Linked DNA regions of Homo sapiens. The protein of the gene in region 2 purifies or fractionates together with the protein of the main gene of each other region. This does not show direct contact. Each region holds a gene or a part of one and is shown on either strand. Other genes may lie near its edges.

What was found. The genes of interacting proteins can lie anywhere in the genome.
Region 1: the proteins of ADA (region 2) and POTEF purify together in Homo sapiens (affinity purification with mass spectrometry; 3 studies listed by BioGRID and IntAct, with this or other methods). This does not show direct contact.

Annotation. Positions count from the first base shown.
Region 1 is NC_000002.12:130,119,217-130,126,249, reverse strand, and holds part of POTEF (POTE ankyrin domain family member F), read left to right. Parts: intron 1-4,951; exon of another isoform or gene 4,952-5,641; 5' UTR 5,642-5,734; coding exon 5,735-6,255; intron 6,256-7,033.
Region 2 is NC_000020.11:44,641,683-44,648,715, reverse strand, and holds part of ADA (adenosine deaminase), read left to right. Parts: intron 1-7,033.

The DNA of each region.
Region 1 (7,033 bases), on a different chromosome or scaffold from region 2:
CTCACTGCAACCTCCGCTTCCTGGGTTCAAGCAAGTCTCCTGCCTCAGCCTCCTGAGTAACTGGGATTGCAGGCATGTGCCACCATGCCCAGCTAACTTTGTGTTTTTAATAGAGATGGGTTTTCTCTATGTTGGTCAGGCTGGTCTTGAACTCCCGACTTCAAGTGATCCACCTGTCTCAGCTTCCCAAAGTGCTGGGATTGGAGGTGTGAGCCACCACGCCTGGCTCTCTGCCACCATTTTCAAGAGTATTGTCATCTGCCTGAGCAAACCTGGTTCATCACCACCTCTTTGCAAGAGAAAAAGGAAGTCGGGAGAATTGTGTGTAATTTTTTTTTTTTTTGAGATGAAGTCTCGCTCTTGTCCCCCAGGCTGTAGTACGATGGCCCGATCTTGGCTCACTGCAACCCCTGCCTCCTGGGTGAAAGCAGTTCTCCTGCCTTGGCCCCCTGAGTAGCTGGGATTATAGGTGCCTGCCACCACGCCCGGCTACTTTTTGTATTTTTAGTAGAGATGGGGTTTCACCCTGTTGGCCAGGCTGGCCTAGAACACCTGACCTCAGGTGATCCACCCACCTCGGTCAGCTGTGTGTATTTTAAGGCAAAGATTCACAACCAAAAACAAGGCTTTATTAACTTTTGTATCTAAGAACCTGCAGTGTCGAGCCCTCTTTTATTCCTAGTATTACTACTTTAGGTGTGAACTTTTTATCTTTATTTTACTGATTCCTCTAGAAGTTTATGCATTTTCTTGACTGCTTTAAAGACAATCTATATTGTATCATTTTTCAAGCCCGTAGAAATGTGTAAGGCCTATAATTTGAACACTTGTTATTTTTAAGGTTATGAGCATGTAATATACCGTTGATACATGGAAGAATATGTATAAATACCACTAGATAGGTTATATTGAAGAGATAATATCTAAATTTTTGTCCAGAGTTGATGGGGTGCAGTTTTGTAGGTGTGTTTCTCAATACATTGTGTCCATGTTTTAAAGCATATAGAAATTTGAATACTGTTTAACCTCATATAGTCCTTGTTTATAGGTTTAATATTTCTAAAGACTAAAGACGTCACAGCTCCCTTTAAGATTCAGTAATACTAATAAAATTTGAGATATACAGGGTTAGAGTCCAACAAATTCAAAGGAAAATTGTTGAATTATATAGCCGTAGAGCAGGAATGAAACCCAGGTTCTAAGTTCCAAGGGGGCCATGAGCTACCATACAGGTGCATCAGTGACTGGGCATAGAGGTGGCAAAATTATTTAAGAGAGTGAGCTGTGGATCCTAATTATGTGAACATGAATTTTTGAACTGCATGGTGCCTCAGTTTATCCATCATTACAGTGGGGACAGTAGTAAGTTTTTCTTTTTCTGCTCAGTTGTCTGAATTATTACCCCAGTCTCTCTTGTTGCCACTCTTGATGCCCACATGAGAGGATCTAAGGTAATTTCTGACAACCTGGGACTCCTTAAGGAAAAACAGAAGGTTCCACAAACCCCATTTTAGGAGAAACCTCTGTTTTCCTCATGGAACCCCAAGAACTTTAAGCAGACAGGTCCCTCTCAAAAATCTAAGGCTCTGCTCTGTTTTGCCTTGCGTTGTCTGACCTTTTTGGTTTGGATGGGCATCAGAAATTAGTAGGGGAGAGAGATCTAAAGAAAATTGTGGATATGAAGATGTATTTATTGTAAGAAATGTTATGAAGGAAAGAAATGTTATATGAGAGAGGATCTTATATGGCAAATTGTTGTCCTAAAGTAGAATGACTAATTACAAAAGAGGGAAATACAGGACAGGTCAGATAAATTTAATCATGTTGTAGATAGTCTGTGGAAGTTGTGTTATGATTCATAAAGTGGGAAAGAAAAACTGAACAACTGCTAGATCTTTTCTTGTCTAGAAGTGTTGTGTATGTGATGTATATATAATGGCTCGGCTTAAAAGAAAATGAAAGCTCTTAAATATTTTGTAAGAAAAATAGAAGCTCTAATGCCTTTTATTTCATGTGACTTCAGTAATCTTTGGGAAATAAAGATGGTGTTAAAGTCAGTGGTAAAATAAAAATATCTTCAAAATTTATCCATTTGGTCTAACTTAAGTCAGAGGTTAAGTTTTAGAAGTGCTTTAATGTCATAAATTGATGCTTTGACTTTGGAAAATAGTTTTGTTTACCTGGTTTGGAGCCGTTAGATTTCTAGGTAAGGTCTCCGGACAGGTGGAGTTAGCCATGTCTCCTAGCTATGCTGGAAGGAGTCAGATTTTATCTGCAGTTCTGTCTTGTATCCTAGACTCTGCACCTGGTATGCAATTAAAACTTACTGCTGCTGCTAATCTCTGGGTTCCATTTAAAATCCTTCCATCACATGAATACTATCCCCTGTACTAAATTTTTCCACAATTAAATACTTAGAATCATTTTTGCTGACTTGACCCAACCATTAGTGATATATTTTAAAAATGCTTATAATGTGTCACAATATATTTAGCAAATGTAGGGAATGACATTTTTACTTTCTTCAGCATTTACATAGCATTTATGTAGCAATGCTATCTCAAGTATTTTTAATCATTTAAATGTTAGATAATAGATATGTTTTTTATTCCTTTTTTCTATGTAAATAAATATAATTATGAGATATTTAGTAAATAGTATCAATTGCATATGTCACTTACAGAATATACAATGAAATTAGGATTATTTTTATACACTACATCATATTTACTTGTTGGCTTTCCAATAACTTAGAAATAGTATTCTGGATTAACTGTGTGACTCATGAGAGAGGGAGTTTGTGCAATTATAGTCTTTACAAATTTTTACTAGATTTTTCAAGACTTATGCTAGAACTTTGAGAACAAGGTAATAAATAAGCATATCTGTTAATATCACCTTTGGTCAACTCTTGGCTAGACCCAATGATAATGTAGGAATTAACATAATTTTTCTACTAAAGGTGTTGGATTTGTTCCGAGAGACCACAGTTCAAAGTCATTGACAAAGAAAGTTTAAAAATTGTTAGATTAAAACCTTTTAGTGTGTTTGAAATTGTTTTGTAGAAAAATATCCTGGTTTGCATTGATAGGTTTTTTTTTAAATAACAACTAGACCAAGAGAAAGGGAGAGTAGTGATAAATGTCCATGTTTTCGAGTTGAAAAGTAACAATCAGTGTATTACAACAGATGGATTTGATGTCAAATTACAAATGCTGAGAACGTTATATGTAACTGACTTGCCAGAGTAATTATACAAGGCAAAGAAAGGAAAGGCATCTAAATAGGAAGGGAAGGGGTGAGATTGTCTGTGTTTTAGACTCCACAAAAAACCCATTACAGCTGATAAACACTATATTCAATAAAGTTGAGAGTTACAAAATTAACATTGGCTTCTATACACCAATGACAAACTGTTATCTGAAAAATAAGGTAATTCCATTTATAATAGCAACAAAACAAATATATAAGTAAATCAAAGAGCAAGGAGTAATTTTAATGAAGGATGTGAACGATTTGTATACTGAAAATTATAGCACATTGATGAAAGAAATTGAAAGTGACAAATAGAAAAAGTCCTATATCAATTGAAAAAATTAATATTGTCAAAATTTCAATGCTACTCAAAGCATTCTACAGATTAAATGCAACCGCTGTCAAATTCCAATGTCATTCTTCACAGAAATAGAAAAATTAGTCCTAAAATCTGAATGGAACCACAAAAGATGCTGAAAAACGAAAGCAATCTTTAGCAAAAAGAACAAACCTGGAGGCATCAGACTACCTAATCTTTGACAAAGCAAACAAGAAAATGGGAAAGGACACCCTATTCAACATATGCTGCTGGTATAATTGGCAAGCCACATGCAGAAAAATGAAGCCGTTCTTCAAAGGTTAAATACAGAATTACCACATGACTCAGTAAATTCACTCCTATGTATACACCAAAAATAAATTAAAACAAATGCCTTACACATAAAAGTATTTATAGCAACAAAAAGTAGGAAACAACAGAAATGTCCATGAATTTTGGAGTGGATTAATAAAATGTGGTCTGTCCATAAAATAAAATATTACTTGGCAATGAAAAAGAAAAACATATTAATACATGCTCCAAAAAGGATGAACATTGAAAACATGATAAATGAAAGTAGTAAGTCACACGTAACTATATTATTATGATTCCACTTACATGAAATGTCCAGAATAGGCAAATCCTTCCAGAATAGGCAAATTCTTAGGTAATAGATGGATGATTGCCTAGGGCTGGGAGAGGTTTAAAGGAAGAATGGGGAAAATAGGGAAAGATTGCTAATGGGTGCAAAGTTTCTTTTAAGGAGCATAAAAATGTTCTAAAATCATGGTGATTGTTTAACTAGTTAATACACTTAAAAAACTGAATTTTATACTTTAAATGAGTGAATTAAATAATATATAAATTGTATCTCAATGAACCTGTGAAAAAAGTTAAAAAATATGTGGTATGCATAAACAAAAAGTTCTTCATTTTATTTCCTAGGGTTTTGGGGAAAAGGTGGTGTTTGATTATATGAGTAAGTTCTTTAGAGGTGATTCAGGAGATTTTGGTGCACCCAACACCTGTGCAGTATACACTGTATACACTGCACCGGGGCAGGAGCTGGCTGCAATCCTGTGGCCCCAAATGCCCCCTTGCTGATGGCCTCGTGTTCTGGGTGCGGAGCAAAGAGGAGCAGGTGTTGAAGGCACCTCAGGCAGGCCCTGGGCTCGGTGGGCGTCTTGTGCTCCGCGATTTTGAGGCCATTTGCAGCCAGCTCCGTCAGCCCGAGCTCCCAGCTGCAGCTGCTGCCATGCACAACAGCACCGCCAGGAGTGTCCTGGGGGCTTTTTTCAAAGGAGGCTGTCAGCATCCTCAAGTTCCAGACGCTTAGCCCCAGTCCTCCTTTAAGAGGCTTTTTTTTTTTCACCAGAGGCTTCTCAGTGGCTTGAAAGCTCAGCTGACTCCCACGAAGTTTGCCGGAACTCAAGGCTGTCAGTGACATTCGTGGCGCCAAGACTTAAGCAGGCGCGTTGCATGCATCGGCCAGTGTCTGTGCCACGTGCCCTGACGCCACCTGAGATAAGCACGCCGCACGCGCACGCGCACGCCGCGCGCACACGCCCGGCAGCAGCTTGGCTGGCTTGTAACGGCTTGCACGCGCACGCCGCACGCGCATAACGGTTTGGCCGGCCTGTAACGGCTTGCACGCGCACGCCGCACGCGCGTAACGGCTTGGCTGGCCTGTAATGGCTTGCACGCGCATGCTGCACGCGCTTTAACGGCTTGGCTGGCCTGTAGCGGCTTGGCTTGGCTTTGCGTTCTTGGCTTGGCTTGGCGTTGGTAGCTTGGATTGACGTTTCCTGCTTGGATTGACGTTTTCTCTCTCGTGTTCCTTTGCTGGGCTTGACCTTTTCTCTGCTGGGTTTGGCATTCCCTTGGGTGGGCTGGGTGTTTTCTTGGGGGCGGGGGTTGGCCCTTTCTGGGGTGGGCGTGGGGTCGCCCAGGGGGGGCGTGGGCTTTCCTCGGGTGGGTGTGGGTTTTCCCTGGGTGGGGTGGGCTGGGCTGGAATCCCCTGCTGGGGTTGGCAGGTTTTGGCTGGGATTGACTTTTCTCTTCAAACAGATTGGAAACCCGGAGTTACCTGCTAGTTGGTGAAACTGGTTGGTAGACGCGATCTGTTGGCTACTACTGGCTTCTCCTGGCTGTTAAAAGCAGATGGTGGTTGAGGTTGATTCCATGCCGGCTGCCTCTTCTGTGAAGAAGCCATTTGGTCTCAGGAGCAAGATGGGCAAGTGGTGCTGCCGTTGCTTCCCCTGCTGCAGGGAGAGCGGCAAGAGCAACGTGGGCACTTCTGGAGACCACGACGACTCTGCTATGAAGACACTCAGGAGCAAGATGGGCAAGTGGTGCCGCCACTGCTTCCCCTGCTGCAGGGGGAGTGGCAAGAGCAACGTGGGCGCTTCTGGAGACCACGACGACTCTGCTATGAAGACACTCAGGAACAAGATGGGCAAGTGGTGCTGCCACTGCTTCCCCTGCTGCAGGGGGAGCAGCAAGAGCAAGGTGGGCGCTTGGGGAGACTACGATGACAGTGCCTTCATGGAGCCCAGGTACCACGTCCGTGGAGAAGATCTGGACAAGCTCCACAGAGCTGCCTGGTGGGGTAAAGTCCCCAGAAAGGATCTCATCGTCATGCTCAGGGACACTGACGTGAACAAGCAGGACAAGCAAAAGAGGTAACCAGGCCTGGGCTGGGAGGAGGTGGGACGTGGGGGGATGATGGGGACATACCCTCCTGGCGGGGGAGGAGGGGGACCTGGCTTTCTCGCCTCCGCAGGCCTCACACCACCCTGGATGTGGAAACCTCAGAGAGGTCAGGGTACAGGGCCCTTTATGAACAGCAACACAAAAACAAAACTTTAGCTGATTTCCAATCATAATTTCCCTCATAGAACACTAATAGACTGTTTTAAAGTGATTTAACTTGCAAAATTAATTAAGTCAATGCAGCAGATTATTTTTAATCTACAGATTTTAAAACAATGTTCTATACATTATAGAAAAGTGTATATTGAGAACTAAGAACGAAGCCCCATAACACATCAACTTCAGGGCTAAATATTCTTCAAATAAAATCCAGTATGGATTTTATATCAATGTACAGTATGTAAATATGTTCTTTACTGAGGAACCTTAGAAGGAAACTGAAATGGGAAGATGGTTCCTGTGCTTGAACAGGAAGATTGAATTTTCTTAAGATGTGAGCTTTTTGGCTGGGCGCGGTGGCTCACGCCTGTAATCCCAGCACTTTGGGAGGCGGGCGGATCATGAGGTCAGGAGATTGAGACCATCCTGGCTAACACGGTGAAACCCTGTCTCTACTAAAAAATATAAAAAAAATTAGCCGGGTGCGGTGGTAGACGCCTGTAGTCCCGGCTACTCAGGAGGCTGAGGCAGGAGAATGGCGTGAACCCGGGAGGTGGAGCTTGCAGTGAGCCGAGATAGTGCCACTGC
Region 2 (7,033 bases):
TATTGACTCCAATGGATATAGCACCAGGTTCAAGAGGCTACCTTCTTTGGAAGAGGTAGCAAACAAGATACGGGGTTTTACTGGGGGCTTAGACACAGGGAAGAGAGTCCAGTGGCGGCAGACTGAGCAGAAGAACCGCAACCACTTGCAAATCATGCAGTTTATGTAGCATTTTCATTTAACACCTTCTCCCAACCATCTCCACCTAGTAACCTTCATTTAACCCAAAACAAAGGGCCTCGGTCCCTATACCCCTGTATGGTCAGTGTCCCGTGGGAATGGGGTGGGGCTCAGATGTTCCTCATAGATAACGACTGGATCTCCAGGTTGGCCACTCTTGGATTCCTTCGCTCAGAACTCTGAACACCCATTCAAGTGTGCCTGCCATGCAGGGTCATCGTCAGGGGATGCCCAAGTCAAGTTTGCCCTGTCGGGTGTGCCTCCCATACCCCCACCTGGTTTGACTTAGCACCTGCTGGGCACTGGAAGAAGTGGAAAGGGGGGTTGCAGGGGTGGCCCTTATCAGCCTATGTTCACAGGTGGCACCAGGCACTCAGGCATTCTGCATCCTGGAGGCCAGTGCTGATCACATGCCTGTTACAATAATCATAACAATAGCTGTCCTTGAAGTAGTCCTGGGTACCAGGTGCCTTCAGTGACTTTTTCTTTTTTGCCAGAATCTCACTCTGTCGCCCAAGCTGGAGTGCAGTGGCAAGATTTTGGGTCCCTGCAACCTCTGCCTCCTGGGTTCATGCGATCCTCCTGCCTCAGCCTCCCAAGTAGCTGGGACTACAGGCGTGTGCCGCAGTCTCACTCTGTTGCCCAGGCTGGAGTGCAGTGGTGTGATCCTGGCTCACTACAACCTCCACCTCCCGAGTTCAAGCCATTCTTCTGCCTCAGCCTCCGGAGTAGCTGGGATTACAGGCGTCCACCACCACGCCCGGCTAATTTTTGTATTTTTAGTAGAGACAGGGTTTCACCACGTTAGCCAGCTGGTCTCGAACTCCTGATCTCAGGTGATCCTCCCACCTTGGCTTCCCAAAGCGCTGGGATTACAGGTGTGAGCCACTGTGCCCGGCTAGTAACTTTTATCTCACGGAATCCTCTGGACGACTTGACAAGGCATGGGTCTTCATCCCCATTTACAGATGAAGAAACTGAAGCTTAGGGAGTGGAGGGACTTGCCAGGGCTACACAAAATCTGAGAGCCTTGAAGCTGTAGACTGGCAAGTGAACAGGTACAGGCTGGGACAGCAGTTTCTTTCTTTTTTTCTTTTTTTAGACAGAGTTTCGCTCTTGTTGCCCAGGCTGGAGTGCAATGGCACGACCTCGGCTCACTGCAACCTTCGCCTCCCAGGTTCAAGTGATTCTTCTGCCTCAGCCTCCCAAGTAGCTGGAATTACAGGCATGCACCACCATGCCCGGCTAATTTTTTGTATTTTTAGTAGAGACGGGGTTTCTCCTTGTTGGCCAGGCTGGTCTCGAACTCCCGACTTCAGGTGATCCGCCCACCTCAGCCTCCCAAAGTGCCGGGATTACAGGCATGAGCCACCGCACCCGGCCAAGGGACAGCAGTTTCTAAACTGTCCCTCTCTGATGCAGAGGGGAATTGGGGCTAAATCAGCAATGTGCCTTTTCTGTCTCATATTTGAATGTCTACTCTGCACGAGGCGCTGTCCTGCTTTGCATACAGTGACTCATTTAATGTTTATGTCAGCCCTCTGAGGAAGGTCCTGTCCTATTATTAACTTCACTTATTATGAGGAAACTGAGACTCAGAGAGGGGAGGGAACTTGCCAAAGTCACACAGCTGGCAAGCAGCAGAGCTAGACTTGAACCCAGATCTGCCTGCACTCAAGTAGAAGCTGTTCATTGCTTTGCTCATTTGCCAATTCCACTTTATGCAAAAAAGAGGGGGCAGTGTGGGGGGAAGAGTTAGAATCAGGGTGGCAGGGTGGGCCAGTGCATTAGCCCTGGGCTTCAGATGTACTGGGGTTGAATTCCTGCCTGCCGCTTAGCAGCTAGGGTACCTCAGGTAGACAACTCCTGAAACTCAGCTTCCCCCTCTGTAAAATGGGGTGACAAAACCAAGATCTTGGGGTTCTTGGGGAAACTGACATGCTGATTGGTTTTTGTACAGTGCCTGGCTGGTAACAGCAGGCCCTCAGGGGTGCGTTTCCTTCCTGGGGACTGGAGTGGGGGTTGCAGTAGACTCTGGGAGGCCTCTCCAGCTGCAGAATCTCCCTCCTCCCTCCTCCTTTTTGTCTTCCTGACACAAAACCCACCAGCTGCACTTCTTTGGGCTTGCAGTGGCTTTCAGTTACCAGAGCCACCTGTTAAAACAAAAATGTGCCTAGGAAGAGCCTGCCTTACCCATTTTGACTCACATGGCAGTTGGTGGTGGAGGGGAACAAAGGAGACTGAGTTTCATCGAAGCCTTTTGCTTCGGAGGAGGAAGGGAGGATCAGAGAGAGGAAGTGGTCTGTGTTCACACAGGGAGGCAGGGGAGGCCAGGCAGCTTCCCAATCCTGCATTCAACCTCAGGGTGGGCTTGACCTGGGTGGCTGGGGGCCCTGTGATCCAGGAGAGACTTGTCCACCTGCTCAGGTGTCTTGAAGGGGTCCCTGTGGTACCCCCTGGGGCGGGGCAAGGTAGTAGGACCATGGTCTGGCTGGGGAGGTGGAGAGGAGCAGGCTGTGGGCGCAGAGTGAGGTTGGAATCTGTATTTACCCAAGGTGTTGGGGGTAGGCTTGCCCTCAGCCCTTAATGTTCTCAGGCCCCTGAGCAGTTGTGGGGGATAACCTCTGCACTCCTAGTGACCAGGGAGCTAGAACAGCAAGGAATTTGAACTTGGACACCAGCTGGGGTCAGGCTCTCTGGGTCTGAGTCCTGATTTCCCACTTTCCAGCTAGAGGAGCTTGAATGAGTCATTTAACTTCACGGTGCCTCAGTTTCCCCTCTCTAAAATGAGAATTATACCCATACCCACCTCTCAAACACCAAGTGCAGGCCTGGCTCAGAGCAGGTGCTGCAGCAATAGCTGCCATTGGTCAGCATCATCATCATGGTTGGTAATGGTCCTACTTTGACTTTTGAGACAGAGTCTCACTCTGTCGCCCAGGCTGGAGTGCAGTGGTGCAATCTCGGCTCACTACAACCTCTGCCTCCCGGGTTCAAGTGATTCTTCTGCCTCAGTCTCCCAAGTAGTTGGGATTACAGGTGTGCGCCACCATGCCTGGCTAATTTTTGTGTTTTTAGTAGAGACAGGGTTTCACCATGTTGGCCATAACAATGGCTGTCCTTGAAGTAGTCCTGGGTACCAGGTGACTTCAGTGACTTTTTTTTTTTTTTTTTTTTTGAGCTGGAGTCTTCCTCTGTCACCCAAGCTGGAGTGCAGTGGCACGATTTTGGCTCACTGCAACCTCTGCCTCCTGGGTTCATGCGATCCTCCTGCCTCAGCCTCCCAAGTAGCTGGGACTTGGGATACACTTGCCCCCGCTGGTCCTCCCTTCCACCTCTGTGAAGAGGAGGTCTCAAACTCCTGGCCTCAAGTGATCCACCCACCTCAGCCTCCCAAAGTGCTGGGATTTCAAGAGTGAGCCACCGCACCTGGCCCCTGTTTAGATGTTAGCATCAGTGACCCAGCACCTTGCTATGTGGCATGCAGGGAGCGTGCTGCTAGACCTCCGGGTTTAGAGTCAAATAGCTTCCTGGCTGTGGTATGCATTAGACTTTCTAACTCAAGGTCCTCCCACTCTCTGAGCCTCAGTCTTGTTGCCTTTAAAACGAGTTTAAGTGTGCTGAGTCCCTATGCTGTGGCTCCACAGGAATTTCCCCAGGTGGAAGACACATCTTGCCTTCTGTGAAACCTCTCAGCAGCAGAGCTGTCAGGCCCCGTCAGCAGGAGACACTGTGGGGACTGCTCAGTCCCTTCCACTGTGTACCTCGGAGCTGGCGGAGCCTAGATGAGGCTGAGCATAGAGGGCTTCCTGGAGGAAGTGGAGCTGAAACAGTTTCTCAGCCCAGGGCTGCTCTGTCTCCTGGCCTCACACTAAAAGTCAGTTGAGAGGCCATAGTGGCATAAGTCACTGACCCTGGCACTGCCCAGCTCATCACCAAAAGCAGGGCTAGGGAGGGAGGGGACATTCGATTGGCAGTGGGCACCTGTGGCTCATCTGGGTTCTGGCCACGGTGCTCAGGTTCTGTGAGCTGACCAGGCAGCCCTGGCTCCTCTGCCCCCGTGTGGGTTCTGCCAGGTCCCATGGGGGCAGGTCAGCCCCTTCCTTGTTGCAGGGAGAGCACCCAGCATTGCTGACATGGGACAGGGAAACGAGGAAATAACGGTGTGGTCATTGAACACAGAGAGCACTAGGTGCTGTGCGAGGTGCTGAGGACACGACATGATGACACAGACAAGGTCCCCCCTCTCAGCAAACGGCTCATGAGGGAGACAGACATGTTACATACATGAACCCAAAAAGTCAGACGAAAACAAAACAGAGCGATGTGTTTGGGAGGCAAACCCAACTGCCGGAGGCGAGCAGGGCGTCTACCTCCAAGGTAAACCCAGTCAGATTAGTTGTCCCCAAGGCTCACCAGGGAGAACTAATCTGACTAGGTTTGCCTTGGAGGTAGACGGCCCTGCTCGCCCTCCAGCAGTTGGGAACGTGGAAACATGAGTCAGATCTGGGAGTATCTGTCCCAGGAGTCCAAGACCTGGGTCCTCATGGTAGCTCTGCCACCGACACACTGAGTGACCTTGGGTAAGTGAACCCACCGCCCTGGACCTCTCTGGCACGCATCTCTTGAGAGCAGGGACTTAGTGCATTTCCCGAGGGCCTCCACGGTGCCTGGCACATAGTGGGGCTTAGTAAATATTTGTTGGTAACTGAGGATGCTTCCTGTTCACATCAGCGCTGGGAGGATTTCCTGCTGTTCAGACAAATGCTGGGCTGGCTGTGAGTCAGCCTTGCAGAGAGCAAAGGCAGTGGGAAGGGGCGTGAGATTCCCCTCTGGAGAGGTCAGGAGGCCAGGCACTGTCTCGACATGAGTGCCAGGGAGGGGGTGTGGCCTGTGGGCAGGGCTTGGGCTGAGGCAGAGGGACTTGAGTTCCACCCTAGCTCTACCACCATCAATTTTGTGTAACTCTGGACAGGCCACTGAACTTCTCCGGGCTTAGCCTGGCAAGTCCATTTCCCCATCTGTAACATGGGCCGATATGTACATTGCCTAGGGATTAAATGAGATAAAGGGTCTGAAAACAGTAGGTAGCTGCTTTATCATTATTATTATTTCTGTATTATTGATGTCTGAGGCTAGGCCCACAGAGGCAGTACAGTAGAGTGGTTAGGAGCTCAAGAATCAGACTAGGGTTCAAATTCTGACTCCATCACTGACTGTTTTGGGGTACTTCTTTGAACCTCAGTTTCTTCATCAGTAAAATGGGAGTGAAGTCTCTACCTTGCTGGTTGTAAGGATGAAATAAGATAATGCATATAGATGGTCTAGCACATAGTAGATACTCAAAAGTTTGAGGCCACTGCTGACCCTTTTCCCTGAAAGGAGACAGGAGAGCGGGGTCGCCACCCCATTGTCATTGTCATCTGGAATAGGCTGACAGACTTCCCATGGTGTGTTGCAGTTTTCTAGAAAATTCAGTAGGAGGCCTGCCTGAGCTTGAGCCACCTGTGGAGGTGGCTTCCTGCCTCTGCTCCACACCTGAAACGCGTCTGGGCCTCTTCTCAGGCAGCCGTGAGAAGGGATGAGTGCTACTGGTCATGGTGGGCAGCTGGCTCTGCTTTCCCCCTTCCCAGAGGCGCTCCTGCCTCCTGCCCAGCTCCCTGAACCCCTAGCTTCTGCACCCCGGCACTGTCTGGCTTCTGCCCCGCTGAGCACCCACTGTCTCTGACGCTGCCTTGAGTACTTCCCGCATGTTATTCAAATCCCAATCAGATCTTCCCTCCCGCAGTAGCTGGTCTTCTGTTCTGGCTTCCTGCCATCCTGTCCTCCACACAGCAGCCGGGAAAGGTTTTTTTAAAGGGGACTCTCCGATTTAACACACTTGGGTGGAAAACCCTTTGCTTCGGCCTCTGCAATCTCCCTGCCCCCTCTCCACTTTGCCCTGGCCTCATTTCTCACCACTAACCTCACTCTGCACTCTGGCCAACTCCCCGCCTGCTTCCTGATTCAGACACTAAGCACACGCAGCTCCCCTGCCTGGAGCCATTCTCCCTCTCCTTCTTTCTTCTCCCTGGCGAACTCCCCCTTTAAGTGATCTTTTCCCAACACACTTTCTAAATTGCCCCCACCCCAGTGTGATTTTTCTTTATCTCATAGCACTTGGTCTGCTTCTTATCACAGTTTGCAAGGCTGAGTTCAGAAAGGTGTGTTTGCTCATTCTGAGGCAGGAGAGGCTACCTTGTGCTGCTGTGGTAACAAACAGCCCCCAGGTCTGAGGGGTCTGCAGAGACCCAGGTTGACCTCATACTGCTTGTCCCTCCAGGGCCTCCAGTGAGGTTTCGGCTCCTTGGATCACTCAGGGCCCCAGGCAGATGGGAAGATTCCACTCTGAACATTGCCAATTGTTGTGCCAGAGTAAAGCAGAGCTGGGAGGTGGGCTCTTGAATTGGCATTTAAATACTTTTGCCAGGCAGGGTAAGGCAGCTCACGCCTGTAATCATAACACTTTGGGAGGCCTAGGTGGGTGGATCACCTGAGGTCAGGAGTTCAAAACCAGCCTGGCCAACATGGTGAAACCCTGTCTCTACTAAAAGTACAAAAATTAGCCGGGCATGGTGGTGGGCGCCTGTAATCCCAGCTACTTGGGAGGCTGAGGCACGAGAATCCCTTGAACCTGGGAGGCAGAGGCTGCAATGAGCTGAGATCTTGCCACTGCACTCCAGCCTGGGCAACAGAGCCAGACTCCATCTCAAAAAAAAAAAAACAACAACAACAAATAAATAAATGAATAAATACTTTAGCCAGAAGTAGCCATGCAGACCTCCCCCCACCAGTCCCACCCACAAGCGGACGT